Linked DNA regions of Homo sapiens. The protein of the gene in region 6 purifies or fractionates together with the protein of the main gene of each other region. This does not show direct contact. Each region holds a gene or a part of one and is shown on either strand. Other genes may lie near its edges. The genes, in order: STIP1, YBX1, PES1, EIF3B, STAU1, G3BP1 and FXR1.

What was found.
Region 1: the proteins of G3BP1 (region 6) and STIP1 purify together in Homo sapiens (affinity purification with mass spectrometry; 2 studies listed by BioGRID). This does not show direct contact.
Region 2: the proteins of G3BP1 (region 6) and YBX1 purify together in Homo sapiens (affinity purification with mass spectrometry; 3 studies listed by BioGRID and IntAct, with this or other methods). This does not show direct contact.
Region 3: the proteins of G3BP1 (region 6) and PES1 purify together in Homo sapiens (affinity purification with mass spectrometry; 2 studies listed by BioGRID and IntAct, with this or other methods). This does not show direct contact.
Region 4: the proteins of G3BP1 (region 6) and EIF3B purify together in Homo sapiens (affinity purification with mass spectrometry; 2 studies listed by BioGRID and IntAct, with this or other methods). This does not show direct contact.
Region 5: the proteins of G3BP1 (region 6) and STAU1 purify together in Homo sapiens (affinity purification with mass spectrometry; 3 studies listed by BioGRID and IntAct, with this or other methods). This does not show direct contact.
Region 7: the proteins of G3BP1 (region 6) and FXR1 purify together in Homo sapiens (affinity purification with mass spectrometry; 3 studies listed by BioGRID and IntAct, with this or other methods). This does not show direct contact.

What each region holds. Positions count from the first base shown.
Region 1 is NC_000011.10:64,189,171-64,192,670, reverse strand, and holds part of STIP1 (stress-induced-phosphoprotein 1), read right to left. Parts: intron 1-3,500. UniProt on the Homo sapiens protein: Acts as a co-chaperone for HSP90AA1. Mediates the association of the molecular chaperones HSPA8/HSC70 and HSP90.
Region 2 is NC_000001.11:42,692,418-42,695,917, reverse strand, and holds part of YBX1 (Y-box-binding protein 1), read right to left. Parts: intron 2,429-3,500; coding exon 2,395-2,428; intron 1-2,394. UniProt on the Homo sapiens protein: DNA- and RNA-binding protein involved in various processes, such as translational repression, RNA stabilization, mRNA splicing, DNA repair and transcription regulation.
Region 3 is NC_000022.11:30,581,911-30,585,410, forward strand, and holds part of PES1 (pescadillo homolog), read right to left. Parts: intron 2,808-3,500; coding exon 2,636-2,807; intron 2,545-2,635; coding exon 2,455-2,544; intron 1-2,454. UniProt on the Homo sapiens protein: Component of the PeBoW complex, which is required for maturation of 28S and 5.8S ribosomal RNAs and formation of the 60S ribosome.
Region 4 is NC_000007.14:2,371,827-2,375,326, reverse strand, and holds part of EIF3B (eukaryotic translation initiation factor 3 subunit B), read right to left. Parts: coding exon 3,478-3,500; intron 2,655-3,477; coding exon 2,532-2,654; intron 800-2,531; coding exon 721-799; intron 1-720.
Region 5 is NC_000020.11:49,115,335-49,118,834, reverse strand, and holds part of STAU1 (double-stranded RNA-binding protein Staufen homolog 1), read left to right. Parts: intron 1-426; coding exon 427-502; intron 503-738; coding exon 739-1,058; intron 1,059-1,586; coding exon 1,587-1,709; intron 1,710-2,967; coding exon 2,968-3,053; intron 3,054-3,500. UniProt on the Homo sapiens protein: Binds double-stranded RNA (regardless of the sequence) and tubulin.
Region 6 is NC_000005.10:151,778,454-151,781,953, forward strand, and holds part of G3BP1 (ras GTPase-activating protein-binding protein 1), read left to right. Parts: intron 1-3,500. UniProt on the Homo sapiens protein: Protein involved in various processes, such as stress granule formation and innate immunity. Plays an essential role in stress granule formation.
Region 7 is NC_000003.12:180,919,170-180,922,669, reverse strand, and holds part of FXR1 (RNA-binding protein FXR1), read right to left. Parts: intron 1-3,500. UniProt on the Homo sapiens protein: mRNA-binding protein that acts as a regulator of mRNAs translation and/or stability, and which is required for various processes, such as neurogenesis, muscle development and spermatogenesis.

The DNA.
Region 1 (3,500 bases), on a different chromosome or scaffold from region 6:
CGGAGTGGCACTGATACATGCTCCAGTGACCCAAAGGCTGTGGGATGGCAGCGGAGACTTCTCTTTCTTGGGAGCGGCAAGATGCTTGCCTATGGCATAGTTGTCATCTCCTCCCATCAGGGAAGAACCAGTCTCCATTTCCTGGTGTGGCAACATGTCACCACAGGATAGATAAATGTTCATTAATGGGTAACAGTCAAGCTAGCTCCCCAAATTGATTCCTGCCATTCTTAAATATTACATTACAAAGGGGATGGAGGATGAAGAAATGCTACTGTGGTTTAAACCTCTCCCTTCTCAAACATATAAAGTGCAAGAAGTAAGGATACAGCGGGGTTTTGTTTTGTTGTGTTTTTTGAGACAGAGTCTCACTCTGTCACCCAGGCTGGAGTGCAGTGGCACGATCTCGGCTCACTGCAACCTCCGCCTCCCAGGTTCAAGCGATTCTCCTGCCTCAGCCTCCCAAGTAGCTGGGACTACAGGCGCACACCCCCACACTTGGCTAATTTTTGTAATTTTAGTAGAGACGGGGTTTCACCATATTGGTCAGGCTGGTCTTAAAACTCCTGACCTCAGGTGATCCACACGCCTTGGCCTCCCAAAGTGCTGGGATTACAGGTGTGAGCCACCGCGCCCGGTGGGATACAGCAGTTTTAAAAAGTGAGGCAGCTCTGCCTGGCCGCCCCACCGACTGGGAAGTGAGGAGCGCCTCTGCCCGGCCACCCAACTGACTGGGGAGAGAGGAGCACCTCTGCCCACCTGCCCCACCGTCTGGCAAGTGAGGTGTGCCTCTGTTGGGCCACTGTGCAACCCTCCAAGTGTGAAGTGACAGCCTTGTGTGTGATCTTTCTGCCCTCCCCAAGTTTGCATTTTCCACATTAAATTTTACTTTTTCATTAAAAAAAAAAAAAAAGTGAGGCAGGCCTTGGCCCTGTCAGAACAGTGTCCTCACTAAAGGGTTTCTCCTTACTGAGCTGCCCCACAAAAGGTCAGGTGCCCCACAGCAGCCTACCTGAGGGCAGGCAACCCCTTGAGAAGCTCATTGTATTTATTATTATTATTTTTTGAGACAGAGTCTTGCTCTGTCCCCAGACTGGAGTGTAGTGGCACAATCTTGCCTCACGGCAACCTCCGCCTCCTAGGTTCAAGCGATTCTCCTGCCTCAGCCTCCTGAGTAGCTGGGATTACAGTCACCCGCCACCACGCCCAGCTAATTTTTGTATTTTTAGTAGAGATGGAGTTTCACCATGTTGGCCAGGCTGGTCTCGAACTCCTGACCTCTTAATCCACCCATCTCAGCCTCCCAAAGTGCTGGGATTACAGGCGTGAGCCACCGCGCCTGGCCATATTTATTTTTTTTTAAAGATGGCATCTCACTCTGTTACCAGCCTGGAGTGCAGTGGCATGATCACAGCTGACTGTAACCTTGAGCTCCTGGGCTCAAGCAATCCTCCTGACTCAGCCCTTTTTTTTTTTTTTTTTTGAGACAGAGTTTCACTCTGGTTGCCCAGGCTGGAGTGCAATAGCACAATCTTGCCTCACCACAACCTCTGCCTCCCAGGTTCAAGCGATTCTCCTGCCTCAGCCTCCTGAGTAGCTGGGATTACAGACACGCACTACCACATCCGTCTAATTTTGTATTTTTAGTAGAGACGGGGTTTCTCCATGTTGGTCAGGCTGGTCTTGAACTCCTGGCCTCAGGTGATCTGCCTGCCTTGGCCTCCCAAAGTGCTGGGATTACTGGTATGAGCCACTGCGCCCGGCCAACTCAGCCTTTTAAGTAGCTGGGACTACAAGTGTGTGTCACCATGCCTGGCTAAATGTTTTTTTCTTTTTGTGGTAGAAATGGTGTCTCACCATATTGCCCAGGCTTGTCTCAAACTCTTGGCCTAAAGCAACCCTCCTGCCTCAGTCTCCCAAAGGTGAACCACCACACCAGGCCAAAATACACTTTTAAGAGGTAAACGTTCTGTGAGATAGAGTTGTCACCGAAGTTACTAACTCATTCTATGTATTATCCACCCACGACCCAGTAAATTGATGCAAGAAATAGTTTTGTCAAGAGAAATGATTTTAGGCTGTAATCTCAGCACTTTGGGAAGCTGAGGCGGGTAGATTAACTGAGGTCAGGAGTTCGAGACCAGCCTGGCCAACATGGTGAAACCCCGTCTCTACTACAAATACAAAAATTAGCTGCTGCCGGGTGCAGTGGCTCACGCCTGTAATCCCAGCACTTTGGGAGGCCAAGGTGGGCAGATCACCTGAGGTCAGGAGTTCGAGACCAGCCTCAACATGGAGAAACCCCGTCTCTACTAAAAATACAAAAAAAATTAGCCGGGCGTGGTGGTGCATGCCTGTAATCCCAGCTACTTGGGAGGCTGAGGCAGGAAAATTGCTAGAACCTGGGAGGCGGAGGTTGCAGTAAGCTGAGATTGCGTCATTGCACTCCAGCCTGGGCAACAAGAGCGAAACTCAGTCTCAAAAAAATAAATAAATAAATAAATTGCCCGGATGTGGTGGTGCATGCCTGTAGTCCCAGCTACTCAGCAGGCTGAGGCAGGAGAATCATCTGAACCTGGGAGTCGGAGGCTGCAGTGAGCCGAGATTGCACCACTGCATTCTCACCTGGAGGACAGAGTGAGACTCTATTTGGAAAAAAAAAAAAAAGAGAGAAATGATTTTGGAATCCTCAAATAGAGAGATCAGGAACTTCCATCAATCAGAGACCTTACAGAGGCAAGGGCAGAAGGAACCTGCCAAATTAAGCAAACAAGGGATAAAAAATCCTAGAGCCCAAGATGGAGGCCAGAAGACGAAGAGTTAACAAAACTCAAGTGGTGTCAAGAGGCAGCTGGTGAAGTTCCTGCCTATGCTTTAGAAAAGCATTTTTCAAACAGAGTACTGATCAACAGTGGGTCAGGAAATCAATTTTGTAGGTCATGACCAGCATTTTAAGAGACCAAATGGGACAAAAAAATACCAGCACACAGTGCACATAACAGTAAATACTGTTTTGCTGAATGTGTTACATGGCTGTACGCCTGTGTTGGGTTAAATGTAAGAAGTGTATCATTGTGGGATTTGAAAGGCCCCTATTGAAAAAAAAAAGCCTGAACATTCAAAATCTGTCCAACTTTTTTTTTTTGGAGATGCAGTTTCGCTGTCATTCAGGCTGGAGGGCAGTGGCGCAATCTTGGCTCACTGCAACCTCGACCAGCCAGGTTCAAGCAATTGTCCTGCCTCAGCCTCCCACGTAGCTGGGACCACAGGCGCGCACCACAATGTCCGCTTATTTATTTATTTTTTTTTTTTGAGACGGAGTCTCGCTGTTACCCAGTCTGGAGTGCAGTGGCGCAATCTCGGCTCACTTCAAGGTCCGCCTCCCGGGTTCAAGCGATTCTCCTGCCTCAGCCTCCCAAGTAGCCGGGACTACAGGCGCGTGCCACCACATCCAGCTAATTTTTGTATTTTTAATAGAGACAGGGTTTCACCATATTGGC
Region 2 (3,500 bases), on a different chromosome or scaffold from region 6:
TTTGCAAAAGCATTATATATAACTTTTAACAAATGAGGATATCCATCTATCCCCTGAGGACTGCACTTAATAGGAGAAGGTGGCCCCACACTGCGTCAGTTTAGATGACAGGCGAGTTTGGTTTTGCATGCTTCAAAGCTGACCAAACCAACTTTGCCCCTGTGTTACCGTATCAAACTCAATTACAAATGTCAACCAAAATCCCTTCCAATCTGATAATACATCAGTGGAAATGCAATTCATGTGTATTAACTATGTCATTCTTTATATGATCTGACTGCATGGAATTGTTAGTTATCACCTCCCCAGAATTCAATAAATCTTGTATTAGAGACTTGTTGCTTCTACTTTCTCCAGACTGTTAAGAGAAGGGAGGAAGAGTAACATCTCACGTTTCTATGAAATTTTTTTGCAACATTCTTTCACTTACTATCTATTCAATCTCATTATGAGACAGGACATGTGAAAGTATTGTTAATCCCATTACACAGATAATGTAACAGGCTTTAAAGTTAGGTGACTTGCCCAAGGTCACACAGTTAGTAAGGAGACTTTCTAAACCCAGGTATTGGGTCTCCAAATCCCATGTTCACTCCAAATCTCAGCTATATCCATTACAGGATCACTCATGCATTTCCATTGCAGAGGAGACAGGACAATCAACGAATCTGAGGCCAATTAAGTGAAGCTGCCCAGAACTGCAGTCTCCCTGATACACCACTAAGACCTGAGCAGCCAAAGTCCCAAGAAACAACTACATGTTGAAACCACTTCCAAAAAAATGAAAGCATATTGGTGGCACCTTGTGAATCAGTACAACTGGGTGAGTTGAGTCAAATAATTGATCTCATCTGTCATCTAAACTGTCACATAGTTTTCATACCTTTCAGATATAGCCAACTATCAATTACCTGCAGTCATAGGGGATAGCAGAATTATGGATAATTAAAATCCCAACTCTTTATTTTTATCAACATCTCCACCCCTGCCCCAACCCCAACCCTTAAGGGTTGCCAACAGGCAACAAGACCGAGAAACTTTGCTGTCTCTTGTTCCTAAGTCTACACATTCTTTTGAACATGCAGAAGGGGAGTAAGGAACAGTTGAGCTGTGTTCTTCCAAACAAGAATACCAATTTTATAAAACATCTACTTTAAAACAACATTTTGTCTGAAGTAGTCCTGTATTTATTTACATTTAGAATTTAAATGATTCCATAATTACATTTGACCCTGAACTACCTGATTGGGTTTGGGTGTACTAGAAATTGATATAGCTTCCTCCTTGTCATCAAATACTGTGTAGGACACTTCAGTGAGCTACAAAGCACCAACCTATGACAGCCCTTCCTATGAAACATGCTGCCATAAAAGCTAGTATCTAATTAAATGTGAGTATGGATATTAACTTTTAGGTCTTTTGATTTCTGGATTATAGTACAAAAAAGTAGTTATGGTCTCTAATTTTAATACAAGTTGACAATATTTCAAAAGCCTTAGTGAGAAAACTGATAGCACAAACATATTTTTTCCTACTCATTTCGTATCTGTGAGGATAAGTACATTCAATGTAGCCTACAGCATATCTAAATTTGAAGTATTAACATACACTTGGCAGTGGTTTACATTAGTAATAATCTTAATTCCTGAATGTGCAAACATTTTCCCTAAATGATACTTAGGGAGAAAGTTCACTATGCAGTACTCATCAGTACTCATCCTATGTTAACAGTTTTCTCTTCCCAAATCACTGGAAGCCAATCTAAAAATTATTTAATGAGCAGCTGCCAACCTTGTCACACTTCCCCCCACTTAACCTTAAACTAGTGAAATTTTTTCATTTTCCAAGCCAGCCAAAACTCTCCAAAGGTTTAAAAAAAAAAAAAACCCAATACCCATTCAAAGTGATTTAAAGTAAGCAGAAGGCTCTTTATGCTACTTTTCAAGTACTCACTTCAATTACTATGTTTTGCAGGTCTGTCTTATTTACCCTTGATTATGGAGATTTGTCCCTACAGGTACACCTAAAAGCCTTTGAAAACTTCTTGCCAAAGTTTCTGTGTATTTATAGCAACATTATTTGTTCAACTTTAGAATCATGGAATAATCTGTTCATCTGAAATTAGGTATAAATATTTAATGCAGTGAGTTTGACTCAACATTTGAGAAAGCCACAGCTGTTGACAAAATTCCAATTTGAAATGTCTAGGATAATTAAGTCAACTCTAACACATTTCCACGTATACATTTTTAAGCATGCTACTACTCCTGTCGTAAGTAAATAAACTGGTGGTTGGACTTAACCTTTTATAAGGAACAAAAGCTGAGAACATATCTAACCTTTTCTTCTTACAATCCTTGAATCAGAAGTGCAAATATCTACACAAGCACTCACCTGGTGTACAAATACATCTTCCTTGGTGTCATTCCTGCAAGACAGAACCAAGTTGAACAAGTTAGAAAATGAAATAAATCTCATGTTGTCAAAGATTAATTTTCCCAGAGACTCTCTGGCTGCCAATTAGGTACCAGGAAATTTGGCAAAAATCAAAAAACACAAGCCACCATGCTCTCTGCTTTCAAGACTTCAGCAGTTGCAAACAGTTGTAGCCTCATTACCCGTAAGATAGGCAAAAAAAAAAAAAAGTCTAAGAAATTAAAGTGTGACCTACTGAGCCATAATTAAGAGGGTAGCAATGACTAGCAAAATATATTCTGCCCCTCCTTATCCTATTAAACATTAACTGTTCTAGCACACCCTCCTCTTACCTCTAGAGCATGGTTACCAACAGAAGTAGTAGTTACATTCTCACCTTATCCTGCATCTCCCAACTACCAACTTTCCTTGAGATCATAAAAATGAGAACCCCCCTCCCCACCAACAGAATGTATAACGCAAAGAGTGAAACCTAATGGGAACTGTGACCTTTGGGTGATAAGGTATGTTTGAATGTAAGAAAAGCCCAGTTATAAAAGCTACTCCACAAGTCCAGACAAGGACTGATGAAGGTTTAGACCACGGAGCCATGTATAAAAAGACATTTGAGATCTCTTTTTGAGGCAAAATGAGAAACTTTGTGGATGACTGGATGTCAGAAGCGAGGGGGTAGAGAATAATCTCACTTTTTAGCCTGGATATTGGGATTAAGGTGATAACACGAGGAGCAAGAATCACCACTGGAGAAGGAAACGGATTTCCAGGCCTGCAGTGGCCTGCCTCACCCTCTTTACTCCGTCAGGTCAGAGTGAGAAAAAGCTCAGTAGTAGCTCTAGCGTTTAATGACAAAGGGAACAAAGGTTACAATGAACTGGACAAACTGGCTTACTGACTGTTAGCTTCTTGCTGAACTGGGGGCAACATATGCATCAAAGGATCCACATAAAATTAACTTTAAATCTGACCTGTAAATTATAGCTTGGATTATTATAAGAACATTTTTAATTGATGGGAACAGGATAATTAAAAAAACAGAACAGGTAAACTGTAAAAGCGACTTAAGG
Region 3 (3,500 bases), on a different chromosome or scaffold from region 6:
CCCCATAAAAGAGTGAGAAAAGGGACCCTGGTCCCTGCTGCTCCGAAGACTGGCTGGCCCTCCCCTCCCTGCTCCGGCTCTCCCACTTCCTTCAGGTCTAGCTCAGACTCGGACAGACCACTTTCCGACCTGGCCAGAGCTCCTGCCTTCTACATCACCTAGTCTACAATCTTTGCTGCATGTCTGCTGCTGGGCTAGCGTGTGAGCACCAGAGGGTGGTGCTCCCAGCGCTGTCTCTAGCCCAGAGGGGCTGGCAAAACCTTGGCTGACTAAGGTGCCTTGGGAAGGCCAGGCCCAGCGGGGGCGGGGGAAGCATGGGGCTCAGGCCGCCCACTGAGTCCCACCTCTGAACCTTGGGATGGACACTCAGAATTGAGTGACTCCCTCCTTGGGCCCAAGCCAGGTCCAGAGGCATGACCCGAGGGGCCAGGGTAGGCTGGCAGCTGGCCTGGCTCAGCCCCCAGGGAGCTCTTGGGAAATGGCCAGCAGACAAAACTACTTTTTGCTCAGGGAAAAGGCACAGAGCTGTCATCCCAGCAGCAGGGGACACAGAAGGCTCATCTTTGCCCTGGAGCAGTTAATAGGGCAAAACAGGGCAAAGAACTGAGGCCCAGACAGAATCACAACTCTTGAGCAGTTCTGCCCCCTAAAACCATGGAGGCCGAGCCAGCCCATTTGGCCCCCAGGACGCGGCAGGATGTTCCGAGCAACGTGAAAATCAGTAGTGATCACCATGGGTGCCGGGTGTGCCCATGACTCTTAGCTGTTCCGCTATTCTGCTGCCAGACAGTGACCTGTGCTGTGAGAGCACATAGGGCCAAGAGAAGCCCTGCCTGTTCCCTCACTCACACCGCCATCCTTCCATGAGAATCTGTGAGGGCCCCTGACAGGCACATCTGGGGACCAACCCCATTTCCCACAGCCCAGCACTGAGCAGGGAGACCCCGCCCCTACAACCAGCCTGAGTTCCACAGCTATGAACCCAACCCTGGCTGCTCACAGGAGGGGCACAACTGGGCTCCGCTACGACCTAGTGCCAGTCCTCCCCATCCGCTGAGAGGAAGCAACGGCAGTGAACTGGCCAAGGAGGAAAGGGGAATGCGTGGCTGGCTCCCTTCCCCCAGGGCCAGCTGTGTGGAGGCCGGCCCACCACAGGGCCCTATTCACCACCAGGGAGGACACACAAAGACCAGTCTGAGCAGCATGGGGGCAGGACATCAGAGAGAAGGAAGGACCAAGAGGAAGGCAGGAAGGAAGGAGGAGGAGAGGAGGGCTGGGGAAGGGAAGAAGGAAGGGCCACCCACACGTGCCCCAGGGGGAGAGGGAACAGGGACTGCTGAGGGCCAAGCCCGCCTCTCACTCGCAAACAGGCCACAGCCTCACCACCAGACAGCCAGTCAGGGTAGGTTCCAGTCCTTGCAACCCCACCCACAAGGGATCATAAGTAACAGCCCAGGGCACCTAGAGTCCCAGCTCCCCCTGGAGCCCCTGATAATCTGGGCAGCAGAGCCACTGTGCTAACTGGACCGGCAGCGGCTGCTCTCCGCTGAAGGCACCAGTTCCCACTCAATGATCAAGCAAGGTGGGCTAAATGCAGGCCACCAGCACAGGGAGGCAGGAGAGCCTGGCCCACCTGCGGGGCACTAGAAGCTCCATGAGAGGGCAAAACCAGGGTTTCTCTCAGTGGATCCCTGCCAACAATTCCCAGGATTTCAAAGAGATAAAGAAAAAGGCTGGGCTCTGTGGCTCACGCCTATAATCCTAGCACTTTGGGAGGCTGAGATTGGAGGACTGCTTGAGCTCAGGAGTTCCAGACCAGTCTGGGTAATATAGTGAGACCCTATCTCTATTTTAAAAGAAAAAGAAAACAATATATGTAGGAAACAGTGCCACATGCTAAGTGCTTCTCCTGTGCTCACCGTTCCCCTTCTCTCCCAGTCCCCGAGTCCTGTGGGGCAGAGAGGCAGGAAGGGGGAAGCAGAGAAGGGAGGCAAGGCCACTTGGCCAAGGTCTGGCAGCTATCGGCAGCAAAGCAGGGACGAGGAGCCCAGTAGGTTCGAGGGCAGGGCTCTGCCACTGTCCCCGTGGTGGCACCACATGGTGCTGGGCATGCAGGCTGGGTATGGCCCTGATAGCTGTTCTCACTGTTTATTCGGCCCTAAAAGGCCAAGCACCAGGCACTGTTAAGGGTGTAGACACTGTTAACTGAGGCACAGAGAGGTGAAAGGAACACGTCCAAGGGCACGCAGCTGGCAGGTGCTGCCATAGGGCTAGCTTAGGCTCCCGCTCTTAATGAGGATGCTGTGTGGCACATTCTGCCGCGCCTCACCCCTCATCAACAGTTGGGAACCCAGCACTTGCTAAACTCCATGGACAGCAAAATCCCCCTTCCTCCACATCCATATCTGTCTAGGAGGCAGCACAAGCCCGTCCCCTCCCGACAGGCACACTCACGTCATGGGAGAAGGCATAGGGAGTGATCCACACGATGGGCTGCCCCAGTACCTCGGCCTGGTAGTAAATGCCTTTGATGGACAGGAAGACCTAGGGGAGAGGAGGAGACATCTGGGTGAAGACCATGGGGTGGCAGGAGAGGGGGCAGGGTGGGATGCCAGCCGGGCAGTCCCAGGCTCACCTTGCGCAGGGCACGGGCAGCGATAATGTAGTGCATGAACTCCACAGTGAGCCGGCGGCACAGCTGAATGGTCTGCACGTGGCACTTGCCAGTCCGCGGGAAGGTGGAAAACAGGAAGCACATGGAGAGGGCATCGTCCAGGTCCCGCAGGGCATCGATGAACGTGGGATACCTGCATGGCCAGTGAGGCAGCACATGGGGCCTGTTCAGCGTGGGTGCCAAGGGGGACCCTGATCTCCTTATCCCACCCCAGATGCCCCGTTCCTCAAGCCAGGCCTCACCACTGCCACCTCCTGACCTGGCAGGAGCAGCTTCCCCACAGCTGACCACAGCCCCTAGGAGGAACCACTTAACCAGGATGCGCCCACTAGGCTCTGAGGACCAGAGAAGTCCCGATGGGGGTCCTCAAGACACCGAATGCTCACCAAAGACCCAGCCTTGACCCACGTGCGGATTTTGTGGTGCACGACGGTAGACGGAGTCAGGGGCTCTATGACTCTCTTTGAAGGTGGAAACTTTAGTGCACAGACACTCTACAGGGAGGTCCAAAATGGAAAATGGGAAACCGAAGCTGCCCTGGTGGAGCAGGGAGCGGGGTGGGGGCTGCTTCCCCTCAGCAGCACTTATGACTGGGCCTGGCCACCGGTCGCCAGCGTAGGTTATGTCTTCCATGCCTCTCATCCCTTGGACATGTCTAGTTGGCAGAACCAATGAGACCCAGGGAATTGGGTCCAGGAAGAGCCAGAGCAGAATGTGTTTCGGGGAATCCTCTGGTAAATGACGAAGCCAACAAGGATGAGCCACCCTGGGCACTGTGTGGCTGCCCTGTTGAGGGACAGAGGCATGGGTCACAGAGAAGACACGG
Region 4 (3,500 bases), on a different chromosome or scaffold from region 6:
TGAGAGGTGCTGCGGCATGGGGTCCCCAGGGAGCCAGCCTCGGCGTTAACATGGAAACAAGCACAGCAACAGCCTCTGGTGGCCGCTGTGAGACTTACCAAATCACAGATGCAGAGTGTGCAGTGAGTATTACATATGACTGCCATCATATTATTTTTACTGGAAATGTTATCTGAGGCTAAGTAAGCCTCCAAAAATACAGTAGCAAGTGTGGACAATGAAGCAAGGGAGAGCAGCAACAAAAGGGTATTCTTTTAACTCAGAGCAGAAAGCTGGAAGCTTCTCCATGATTTCGACACACTGCTGGAACACAGCTGAGACCGACACCGTGACACCAACCACAAAGGTAAGGCAGCCTCACAGCTGTGTAACGAATACCCTTCCCACTAGAAGACAAGGGACTGACCCCCGGGGGGAGGTTACTGGATGGCTGGAAGGCACTTGTTTAACCACAGAGAACCACAACCCGCAGACAGGTCTGCCTGGTCACTTCACGAAAGCATCTGGGAGCGCTTATTTCACTCTGTGCGGGCTTGGCCTGAGTCCTGGAGTACCGTGGGTCTGCAGAGGTTCAATGAAGTCCTATCCACTGACACTGGGGCAACCCTTTCAGCGCACAATACTCTCTCTACCAAGAAGCCGGGTGCAGGCGCCTGAGGGGTCTCTGCCACAGCAGAGCGCTACTCACAGGGCGGACAGGCTCAGAGCGCAGACACCTACCTCCTCAGGCCCGCCAACACCACGAACTGTCCTTGGGGGCTCCAGAAGATGGTGTTCGCCTGCTGCTTGTCGAACATCTCTGAAAGGAAAGAGCGCGCCTGTCACGAGCTGCGAGGGCTTCCACAGTGCCGGGGCAGCCAAGGCTGGAGGACTTGGCCGTGCTCATGCTGCCCATGAGGGCAGAGCTGGTAATGCTGGACCACCTCGGAAAACAATTTTACAAAGTCCATCGCCAAGTACCCCCTAAGTCATGATCCATACTTTAAATGGGAAAAAAAAGAAGATGCGACAGGGGTATTTCAAAACAATACTATCTTATTTCCTGAGGTAACTGGACAAAGAATTCCCTTTACAGCAAATGTTCACTGCTGCAGGGACCCCAACAGAGAGATGTCAGAGACGTGTGACCCCAAAAGACCAAAGCCACTCTCCTAGCGACAAGGCGTCTTTGGATAAGCTGTATGCTTGTTGAAACTGACTACAGTCATCATCTTTGCAGGTACTAACTCTTACTTCCGGAATGGATCTCGGGCAGAGCCGCTGGAACAGTGAGAAGTGAAGGCCAGCTGGGGCTGGCTCAAGTCCCCCTCAGAGCATATGCTCCCTGCATCTCAAACAGAGCTGACAACCTGTGGCCTCTCTCCCCTCAGCCTGTGGTACATCCAAAAAAGAGGCATGGGGCAGGCTGACGTGGGGAGGAGGGGAGGAGATGTGGGAGGGCAGTGCACCCTGGCAGGGGCAGGGGTCTCAGACTTGCACAAGCGAAAACCCCAACAGCCACGGGCATGGGATGGAGCCCATGCGGTGGCCCCAGCGTCCATGCCAAACCTCAGGAGAGGCGTGTCACGCAGCATGTTTGGAAGGTACAAGGTGCCTCTGCTTGCCTATGTTTTATGACCTAGAAGACTTACACAAGTCTCTGGACAGTCTGCAATTGCCCATATGTTTCTATCAACCAGAATTAATGAAACAGCCAATCTTGTAATCCACTGCCAACTGAGGGCACCACGCACCCTGCCAAGCTCTAGCAAAGTGAAAACTAAACTCCTCACAGAATCATGCTGCGAAAGGTGCGGCCAGGAGATTCCAACCCCTTCCTGGTACAGAGCCAAACCCATGGCTCTGCAGGAGGGCAGCTGGCAGCCAGAGTCCTGTGTGAGGAACACAGCCCATCGCCACCTCCTGGCTACCACACACACACACCCCACGCCTATGAAGCAACAAGCAATGGCTCATTCAATCCCCGCGGGCACCGGGCTCTGTGCTGAGCAGAGACCCCAGGATGAAGTGAGGAGCTGAGGGCACAGGCAGCAGGTGCCGTGAGACAGGCGAGGGCCCACGCACCACTGTGAGGAGCGAGCCCCAGGTGGGTGCAGTGTGGCACCCCTGGAACCGGGTGCACGGGGGCAGAGTACAGCTGTGTGCAACAGCTCTGCGCACCCTGGTCAAAGGCACCTGACCCAGACTGGGGACTGGCAGGAGTATGTCCACAGGAAGTGACCCCAAGCCCAGGGACAGCAGCTACAGCCAGAAGAGAAAAAGCTTCACTTGAGATGATGGCAGAGAATGGAAGCCTTGGAAATACTCGCTTAAACGTGAGGGCTCAACGGGGCTCAGAGAGACACCCTGCAAGGAGGCGGCACCTCCAGGCCATCGCTCACTTCCATCAGCCGAGGCCACACCCCATTCATAGGCGAGTCCCGGCCTGCCCAGCAGTGGTCCTAGGCCAGTCAAATGCTCACTGTTGGGCAGCGACTGGGTCATCATCTGTGCTGACCTACTCAGAAGAGGAAAGGGACCAGGTTACTTACTGATGAGTTCAATCTTCCCGTTGTTTTTGACGTGGTAGAAAGACACAGATATCCGCGGAGCCTCTCCGTGCAGCACAGCAAACTTACTTCCATTTGGTTCCCAGGCAAAGGCTATGATGGTTTCTAAAATGCACAAAACAGACCCCTCCCTTTTTGGTCAATTCAGAACATAGTGCTCTTGATCAGTTAAAATGTTCACTATTCAACCACAGAGAAATATCCCCCGACGTGTAAAAGTTCATTAAAAGGACGGGAGAGCAAGCAACAGCAGGAAAGGTGCACATTCCTGGAGTTTCAGAGACAGCTGCTTCCACTTGTGTGGAGTGACCTACGTGAAACTGCTCCCTTCCTGAGAGCAGGACACCCACAGCAGGACCGCAGGAGCCCGACATTGTCAGCAGCTGTGGATGCCGCTTCCCTCGCACCCAGTGTGCACCTACAGTGGGATCCTGACCTCCGGTCTCCCTGCCTGGAAGGGCGGCCATGTTTCCCATTTTCTCACCTATTTTTAACCCTTCCTTCCTCCTTTTCTCCATGGCAAAACAAAAAGCCAAACAAGAACACAGGCTCAATCTCTTTTCTCTTTTTTTTAGACAGGGTCTTGCTCCGTCACCCAGGCTGGAGTGCAGGGGCGCAATCTCAGTTCACTGCAACCTCTGCTCCTGGGCTCAAGTGATCCTCCCGCTTCAGCGTCTCAAACAGCTGGGACTATCGGTGCGCACCACCACACCTGGCTAATTTTTTTTATTTGTTTTTTGTACAGAGAGGGTCTCACTATGTTGCCCAGGCTCTAAACACGTTCTGTGACCTGGAGATGACTATTCATGGTGAGGGCTCACAGTCCTGACTCAGCTGCTCAGACAACCCCTCGCATGGAAGTGTTAAAGCCAAGAGTAAAACAGCACGTAGGCCCCATTCGCCTCAAAGTGACTAAAATACAACTTGCCTTTCATCTCGACCACATCCACA
Region 5 (3,500 bases), on a different chromosome or scaffold from region 6:
AATGTCACCTTATTTTTTAATTGGATATCAGCTCCAGGAAATATTCTTGATTTATTTGTTTAGCTTCAGTCTGAAAGCTTCTTTCCCCACCTTGGTGGGCTCTACCGTCTAGCATCTCTGCTCTTTCTGGTTAAATGCTTCCCGTCTTCCTGTGGGTGCAGAGTGCAGCTCAGCATTCACAGGTTAGTGCACTTTGTTAGATGCTCTTTGTGGGCAGGGGTGTGGGCAGGAGGGTGCATTAGGAGAAGGAGGCAGGCTCTGCCCAGGTGTCTGTCAGGGTGCCAGTGGTCAGGTGGGGCAGGGTTTTTCTGCCGATTGCCACAGTTATTGCTGACTGGACTTTGTGTAGATTTAGACAGCAGGAGCTAATTTTTCAGTGATCTGATTTATGCTCATGGCCTTTTTTTTTTCTTCTTCTTTTTTAAGACACCCATAAAGAAACCAGGGGATGGAAGAAAAGTAACCTTTTTTGAACCTGGCTCTGGGGATGAAAATGGGACTAGTAAGTGTGATCTTAATATCGTCTTCCTCTGAACGTGATTCTGGGATTTGCATGGGTCCTGAATAACAGCAGGAGCCCAGCCAGTGAGGTCCCGCATGCAAAGTGTCTTTATCATTCCCTGATTCCCTGCGCTGCCATGCGTGCCAAGGGGAGGGCCAGCGTGGGGTTTGATGGTGTCATTGCGTTTTTCCAGGCTGTGGATGTGGATTCGTGTTTACCGTGTATGTCCCTCCCAGGTAATAAAGAGGATGAGTTCAGGATGCCTTATCTAAGTCATCAGCAGCTGCCTGCTGGAATTCTTCCCATGGTGCCCGAGGTCGCCCAGGCTGTAGGAGTTAGTCAAGGACATCACACCAAAGATTTTACCAGGGCAGCTCCGAATCCTGCCAAGGCCACGGTAACTGCCATGATAGCCCGAGAGTTGTTGTATGGGGGCACCTCGCCCACAGCCGAGACCATTTTAAAGAATAACATCTCTTCAGGCCACGTACCCCATGGACCTCTCACGAGACCCTCTGAGCAACTGGACTATCTTTCCAGAGTCCAGGGATTCCAGGTAACTGTCTGGCCTGAGCTGTGATGGCTGTGCCTCAGGACAGTCATCTTTTGGCTTCTCTCAGAAAATGAACTTTGAACTTTGTACTTTTTTCTTAAATCAAGTTCTGTCCAGGGATGGGCTGGGGAGCAGTGATGGAAGGGTAGGAGGTATAGAAGTATTGTAAGCATATGTGGTAAGAGAAATATCTTTATCCTTTGGTAGTAAGATTTCAACATGCAAGCCAACCCTAAAAGCTTCTAACCACTAGCAGTGGTTGTAAATTTGGATTTCAAAGAACAGACTCATCGTGCTGACACTTTCTGTCTGGTAGGAAAGGATATGGCTTCTCCCAGTCTTGGGCTTCTGAGCAGACACCTAGGTTCCTGGAAGGTTCTGGGCTGACAGGGCAGGTGTTAGTATGGCCACAGTGGGGCTGAGTTGGAAAAAAGAGCTGGTGATCTTGCTTGTGGGGCCTGGAGCTGCAGCCCTCCAGCCCACTCATACTTGCTGTTCCCTACCTAGCCTCAGCTCTCTTTTCCCCCTTAGGTTGAATACAAAGACTTCCCCAAAAACAACAAGAACGAATTTGTATCTCTTATCAATTGCTCCTCTCAGCCACCTCTGATCAGCCATGGTATCGGCAAGGATGTGGAGTCCTGCCATGATATGGTACGTCACACCTTGGGTGAGGGATTGGGGTGTTGTGTGTTTATGTGGAGCCTGCCTTGGTTCAGCTTGTTACTAGCCTGAGGAAGATGGGAGAAAGATTGTCCCATAGACCTTGAGAGCAATGAATCGTTTGATAGTGTTCATATTTTTGAAGACTTTTTGTCATAGCTGATTGGATCGATTTCTCACTCTTGATCAGAACTCATCAGCTTTAGCCCACCTTTCCCTTCCTTTTCCCTGCTGGCCTGGAGGGGCAACTGGGATCCTGCAGCTCACCCAGAGACTGCACTCACTTCATCTCTCACCAGAACAAGGAATTGCAGGTCCACGTTCTGGCAGCTGTAAAAACCACTTGCTTTGGTCTTCTGTTCAGATGAAATTATTGTTATAAGAAAACTGAGAAAAGGAATTGATCAGATCAACAAATCTAAGTAAACTGTGATGTATTCACTTGATGGGATGTCATGCATGCATGAAATTAATGTCTCTGGGTGGGGTGTGGTGGCTCACACTAATCCCAGCACTGCGGGAGGCTGAGGCAGGCGGATCACCTGAGCTCAGGAGTTCAAGACCAGCCTGGCCAACGTGGTGAAACCCCATCTCTACTAAAAATACAAAAAAAAATTAGCCAGGTGTGGTGGTGGGTGCCTGTAATCCCAGCTACTTGGGAGGCCAAGGCAGGAGAATCGCTTGAACCCGGGAGGTGGAGGTTGCAGTGAGCCAAGATTGCACTACTGCACTCCAGCCTGGGCAGCTGGGTGAGACTGCGTTTCAAAACAAAACAGTGTCTCCGAAGATAATGTAATAAGAAGAAAAATACATGATAGGCCGGGTGTGGAGGCTCACACCTGTAATTCCAGCACTTTGGGAGGCCAAGGTGGAAGGATCGCTTGAGCCTAGGAGTTTGAGACCAGCCTGGGCAACTTAGTGAGACCCTGTCTCTATAGAAAGAAAAATACATGATAGATTTTTGTTAGAAAGCAGGATATAACATTTATACAGTCTGGTTACCACATGGTTAAAAATACTAGAAGGAAAAATATAACATTTTCAGAGGTTATGATTCAGTGAGGTAACTGAATATTTTTTAATTTGTATTTTAAATTAAAAATTCAAAGTTTTATTTAGTAGTACCAGAGTTGAAGAAGTTGCCACCTGTTTGCTGGGCAGCAGGAACTCTCTTGCCTGCCTGACCAGTGTATTATGCTGTGGTCCCAAGCGGTGGCTGTGGCTTTACCCTTCTTTCCATCCCCACTAGGCTGCGCTGAACATCTTAAAGTTGCTGTCTGAGTTGGACCAACAAAGTACAGAGATGCCAAGAACAGGAAACGGACCAATGTCTGTGTGAGTGCACTGATGAAGGGGAAGGCGCTGATGATGGGGAGGCTGCCCCTCGTTTGTGTTGAGTTTACACTATCTGCTGACTCAGCGGGGAAATATTTGCCTGAGTTACTTTCTGGCCCTTTTGCCTGAAAGTTTTCCAGATTCTCTGGGCAGAAAGCTCTACTTTTAAAAGACATTTTGAGGCTGGGAACAGCGGCTCACACCTGTAATCCCAGCACTTTGGGTGGCCAAGGCAGGTGGATCATGAGGTGTCAGGTGTTTAAGACCAGCCTGGCCAAGATGGTGAAACCCTGTCTCTACTAAAAATACAAAAATTAGCCAGGTGTGGTGGCAGGCACCTGTAATCCCAGCTACTTGGGAGGCCGAGGCAGAGAACTGCTTAAAACCTGGGAGGCGGAGGTTGCAGTGAGCCGACATAGCGCCACTGCACTCCAGCCTGGGCGACAG
Region 6 (3,500 bases):
GTTTTGAGACAGTGTTTCGCTCTTGTTGCCCGGGCTGGAGTGCAGTGGCGCCATCTCTGCTCACTACAACCTCTGCCTCCTGGGTTTAGGTGATTCTCCTGTCTCAGCCTCCTGAGTAGCTGGGATTACAGGTATCCACCACCACACCCGGCTAATTTTTGTATTTTTAGTAGAGATGGGGTTTCACCATGTTGGCCAAGCTAGTCTCGAACTACTGACTTCGGGTGATATGCCCTCCTCGGCCTCCCAAAGTGCTGGGATTACAGGCATGAGAGTACTTTATATATTCTGGATAGAGGTATTTTAAAAATTAGAGATATGGGTCAGGCGCAGTGGCTCACACCTGTAATCCCAGCACTTTGGGAGGCCGAGGCAGGTGGATCACTTGAGGCCAGGGGTTCGAGACCAGCCTGGGCAACATGGTGAACCCTCATCTCTACTAAAAATACAAAAATTAGTCGGGCGTGGTGGTGTGTGCTTGTAATCCCAGCTGCTTGAGAAACTGAGGCATGAGAATTGCTTGAACCTGGGAGGTGGAGGTTGCGGTGAGCGCCACTGCACTCCAGCCTGGGCGACAGTGGAAGATTCCTTCTAAAAAAAAAAAAATCAGTCAGTCAATCAATCAGGTAAATGCCTTGCAAATATTTACTCCTAATCTGTGGCTTGCCTGCGTGCCTTTTCATTCTTTTGATGGTGTCTTTGCAGGGCAGATGGTTTTAATTTTGAGGCAGTCTACGTGATCAATTCGCTTTCTTCTTCATTTGCTTTTGGTGTGTCTAAAATCTTTGCTTAGTGTCATGCAAGTTTTCTTTAGAAGTTCAGTTTTGGGTTTTACACTTTGATTACACTGAATCATTTTGAGTTAAATTTTGTATGTGGTGTGAGACATGAATTGAGGTTCTGGTTTTTTTTTGTTTTTTCCATATGATATCTAATTGTTTCAGTACCAGTTGTTGAAGAGAGTATACTTTTTCCACTGAATTGTCTTTGCACTTTTCTTGGAAATATAGTTGTCCATGTGGATATGTTAGTGAACTCCATTCTGTTTCATGGATCCATTTGTCTCTTTATGTCTAGCCTGTGTATCTATGTACGGTATCTGGTATTTGTGTATACTAAAAACACTTTTAAATATATGTAACGTTATCACACAGTACATATTTGGCAACTGATTTTTCTTTTTAATAATGTTTTTGAGTTATGTGCTCGCTTTCTGGCAGGCATAAATAGGGTGACATATGTCTTGGTTTGCCAGGGACAGTCCTGATTCACTTCAGTTAACCTGACACTATTAATAGTAGTTGTTTTCAATCTTAAAAGTGCTCTCATATGGTTGTCTTAGGTATAGAAGTTTCCCTAATGTGAATAAACCACAACTTAATATCCATTCCTTATTTGATGGACATGTAGATTGTTATCAATGTTATACTTTACAGATAGGGTGGCAGTTATTTGTTTTTGTCTTGTGTGAGTTTGTTTTGTCTTGGGTGAGTTTCTTTTGTATATGTACCTAGAAGAGAACTGCTAGATTTTCATCAGAGTGTTTTTGATTTTATTAGATAGTGCAAAATTGTTCTCCACTGTGGTTGTACCAGTTGAGACTTCATCTTCAGCAGTCCTGTAGGCTCTTTTTTTTACTTGGTTGCCAATGTTTGGTGTTGACTGAGATTTTAATACTTTGGCGCATCTCTTGTAAGGTATCTCCTGTGAGAAGTGATTTTATTAATTGCATTTTCCTGGTTACTTACTCTGTTTTGTTTGCTGTCCATTTAGTACTTTCCTGAGAATTGGCTGCTCCATTTCATTTGCCTGTTTTTCTCTTGGGTTACTCTTTTAGTGATTTGTATGCAGGTTTATATACATTCTACTAATCTTTTATTATATGATATTATATTTTCTTACTATAAAACTGGCACTGAAAATGGGCTATGAAGGCATTTGGCTACTTTTTATTTTGTTGGAGTGAGCTTTGCCATTAAAAATGCAGGTGGAGTATGGGCTGCCTTTATGTTTCCCTGCCCGTCTGTTAAAAATTGGAGGATAATGCTCATAGTTATTTCCCCCTCCGCCGCTAGCTGATGGAGTCTTGCTCATTCGCCTAGGCTGGAGTGCGGTGGTGCGATCTTGGCTCATTGCAAGAGCTCCGCCTCCCGGGTTCACTCTGTTCTCCTGCCTCAGCCTCCTGAGTTGCTGGGACTACAGGCGCCCACCACCATGCCTGGCCAGTTTTTTTGTATTTTTAGTAGAGACGGGGTTTTACCGCATTAGCCAGGATGGTCTCTATCTCCTGGCCTCATGATCGCCCACCTTGGCTTCCTAAAGTGCTGGGATTACAGGTGTGAGCCACCGCGCCTGGCTGATAATGCTCATAGTTCTTTAGACCCTTAACATTTTTCTGTTAACTTCAGCACAATTATTGATGGGGAGTTTCTTTGAAGTTGCTTTGCAATCTGGAAACTTGGGATCAAGTGGAAAATTTGAAAGTTAATGTAGTACAGTTGAACCATGAACAAACGTGGGTATGAACTGCTCAGGTCCACTTGAGCAGATTTTTTTCAATGAATATATTGGAAAATTTTTTTTGGAGATTTGTAACAATTTGAAAAAGCTCACAAACTGAATAGCCTAGAAATAATAAAAAAAATTAAGAAAAAGGTATTTCATGAATGCATAAAATATATGTGGATACTGTTATTTACTACTGTAAAATATACACAAGTCTATTACAGATTTATTACAGAGTTAAAATTTATCAAAATGAACCCACACAAACACTTTGAGACCATTCAGGGCACCATTTGCAGTCAAGAGAAATGTAAACAAATGTAAAGATACAGTATTAAGTTATAACTGCATAAAATGAACTTTAGTATATACTGTACTATAATTTTTTTCCTAGCCACCTCCTGTAAATATTGCAATGTGCTTGTGTTGCAAGTATCTGCTTACAACACTGTGTGATGCTAATCATCTTTATGTGAGCAGTTCTTCTCTCCAGTAAATTTGGATGCAGTAAAAAGTGATTTCTCTTCAATGAGTAGTTTTCATCATGTTTAGTACAATACTGAAAGCCTTGAATAACACCATGGGACCCATACGAAATATCACTAATGATGCTGAAAGCACTCCCAAGAAACAGAAAAGTTATGACATTACAAGGAAATATTAAATTGCTTGATCTGTACCATAGGTTGAGGTGTGCAGCTGTGGTTACCTGTCATTTCAGAGAGACGATTTGTCTTTTAAACAGACAGCATAAACATATACAATACTGAAAATGTATTTTGCAAATGATTTTCTTATTTTCTTTAGCTTTATTGTAAGAATACAGTATATAACCTACAAATAGTTAAATGATTGGTTATATTATTGGTAAAGCTTCTGATCACCAGTGTGCTATTAGTAGTTAAAATTTTGAGGAGTCAAGTTATACACAGATTTTCAACTCTGGGCTATCCATGCCCCTAATTCTCACCTTGTTGAAGGCTCAACTGTAGTTC
Region 7 (3,500 bases), on a different chromosome or scaffold from region 6:
CTGCACTGCAACCTGGGTGACACAGTATTATTTATTTTGAGATCCTATCTCAAAATTAATAACCTAAATAAATAGGTGGGAGAGTGGACACTCTTACATCAGGTCAGAGGCTTAATATCCATAATACAGAAAGATTTTCAAAACTGACAAAGGACACCCCAACAAAAAAATGGGCAAAAGACAGGCAATTCTTAGAAAAACAAAATCAAATGGCAAACAAAGGCAAGTCTTAAAAGAACAAGTTCAAATGGCAAACAACATTAAAATTCACAACTGGGATCAAGTTCCAATGAGATATCCCTTTACATCCAACAGACTGGCAAAAATTAAAGATCATAAAGCCAACTTCTGGCCCAGATAAAAAGAAAAAGCTGCCATTTATTATTGATGGAGAACACAGGAAGCATCAGAAGCCTTTTTGGAAAGCAATCTTTCAACATTTATTACAGTTTTTTGTTTTTTTAAAGGTTCCCTTTCACCAAGCTATCCCATTCTTTGATATCTATCCAATGGAAATAGTTATGTGGAGCGACAAAAAACTGAAAACAAAGTGTATGTCTATTAACTGGGGAATGGCTGAATTTAATACATTGTTATGATTATATAACCTTAAAAAATAAATCATACTCCACATGAAAATAGTTAAGATGTGGATGATCCTATTTTTATACAGTAATACTGAAAAACCCTATACTTGTAACTGAATGCGTACCTATATACAATTCTACGAGCATAGTGAAATATATGGAACCACGTATATGTGCTACAAACAAAGGTTACCTAATATGGAGGCGGAGGTGAGAGACCCAGGTGGTGAAGAGCAACCAGGGGAAAAAAAAATACAACAGACTAAGTTTTTATATCATACTTACGTGTGTGTAAAATTATACACGTGTCTATGTAAACGTATACTTTTAAGAATTAGAATATATCTTATTGTCAGCCAACACGTTTTCCATACAGCACGTATGTGCATCACCACTCCCCACTTCTAATTTTTCCATCTCTAGGGATCTCAAATTTATAAGATATAAACTTATAAGATGCTTACCACAACTAAAAGATCTAAGTTGTAATTTGATTCCAACAAGTACCAAATAGTCAAGGCTGCTACTGCAATCAAAAAAATGTCTTAACTTCAAACAATATACTTTTTAAAAAGATCTACGCAACTAAATCTACAAAGTAAAATTATTCCAAATCACTAGATACTTGTTCCACAAATTCAAAAAGTCTGCAAATTTACCAATTACATTATACATTACAATAATTATTACAAGTTTTTTTTTTTTTTTTTAGATGGAGTTTCTGTTGCCCAGGCTGGAGTGCAGTGGCGTGATCTTGGCTCACTGCAACCTCCACACACACCCCCACCCTGGGTTCAAGGGATTCTCCTGCCTCAGCCTCCAGAATAGCTGGGATTACAGGCACCAGCCACCATGCCCTGCTAATTTTTGTGTTTTTAGTGGAGATGGTTTCACCATGTTGGCCGGGCTGGTCTCGAACTCCTGCCCTCAAGTGATCCACCCGCCTCAGCCTCCCAAAGTGCTGGGATTACAGTCAAGAGCCAGCACGCCCAGCCAATTATGGAGTAAGCTCTAATAAGAAAAAAAAATTATTCAAGGCAAGCATTCAGCATTCATTAGTATTGAGCATGTAACTGTTCTGAGTTTGAAAAAAGAAAAAGGACAATGAGGATGTGAAGATTTCTTTAAGAATACACAAGTGTCTACTACTACTGTTTACATACCAGTAATGTTCTTGGCTTGTTAGGTTCACCCATTTGTATGTATTATCTAACAGTTCTCTTTGAAATGGAATAAGTTAACAGTTCCAAATGGCCACCCAAAACTATTCTGGGCCGGGCATGGTGGCTCACACCTGTAATCCTAGCACTTTGGGAGGCTGAGGCAGGCAGATCACCTGAGATCAGGAGCTCAAGGTCAGCCTAGTCAACACGGCAAATCGCCATCTCTACTAAAAATACAAAATTAGCCGGGCGTGGTGGTGCATGGCTGTAATCTCAGCTACAATAATTACTGAGGCACAAGAATCGCCTGAACCTAAGAGGCAGAGGTTGCAGTGAGCCAAGATTGTGCCACTGCACTCCAACCTGGGCAACAGAGCTAGACTCAAAAAAAAAAAAAAAAAAGAACAAAACTATTCTGACTTTCTCGTTGCAGAGTTTAAGTTCTATACAGTTCCCTCTATGCATGCATAAAGTTTTGTGACAATATCTGAACTTGACCAAGATCAAAACATAACTTCTTTAAAAAAATCATTTAAATTCAGTTTGAACCAAAATCAGAAATGATGAAGTTAGCAGTTACTAAGATTACACATCATTCAACAAATATACACTGAGGGCTTACTATGAACTAAGTACATATATCAACAAAATTTAAGACTTGAAAATAACCTGAAAAACTGTAAAAACAAAAAGGTTACATGAAAAGGGAACCAAAAACAGCTACCTATGATTAATTATGTAGATTAAGAAAGGAATTCAGGAGCCTCTGAGGCTCCTGATCTGAAGAAATCTCAACACGGGAGCGCATCCCTTTGCCAACAATAATAAACTTCATCAGCTATTTTACTAATGGAGACCTCTGTTCATCTTCCCAAAATAGACAGCAAAAAACGCTGAAGATAGAGAATGGCAGGCAAGTTAAATACACTGATAGCATAAATTATCTTGATTAAAAGAAGGAGGTAGTGGCTCATGCCTGTAATCCCAGCACTTTGGGAGGCTGAGGCAGGAAGATCATAAGGTCAGCAGTTTGGGACCAGCCTGGCCAATATGGTGAAACCCCATCTCTAATACAAAAATCAGCCGGGCGTGGTGGCTGGCACCTTTAGTCCCAGCTATTCAGGAGGCTGAGACGGGAGAATTGCTTGAACCCGGGAGGCAGAGGTTGCAGTGAGCTGAGATTGCGCCACTGCACTCCAGTCTGGGCAACAGAGCAAGACTCCATCTCAAAATAAAACAAAATGCATGAAAAGAAATAGATAATATTAATTTCAATATTATTTAACCTAATATACCTAAAATATTATCCAACATGTAATCAATGTAAAAAATTATTGGCCCGGCGCAGTGGCTCACGCCTGTAATCCCAGCACTTTGGGAGGCTGAGCCAGGTGGAACATTTGAGGTTAGGAGTTCGAAACCAGCCGGCCAACATGGTGAAACCCTGTCTCTACTAAAAATACAAAAATTGCCTGGGCGTGGAGGCACACAGCTATAATCCCAGCTACTCGGGTGGCTCAGGCATGAGAATCACGTGAACCCAGGAGGCGGAAGTTGCAATGACCCGAGATAGTGCCACTGCACTCCAGCCTGGGCAACAGAGCAAGACTCTGGCTCAAAAAAAAAAAAAACAAAAATAAAAAAAAAATAAAATTTAGGTGTTTCACATTTTTTTTTAATTCTAAGGCTTTGAAACCCAATTTGTATTTTACATTTAAAGCATGTCTCAATTCAGACTAGTACATTTCAG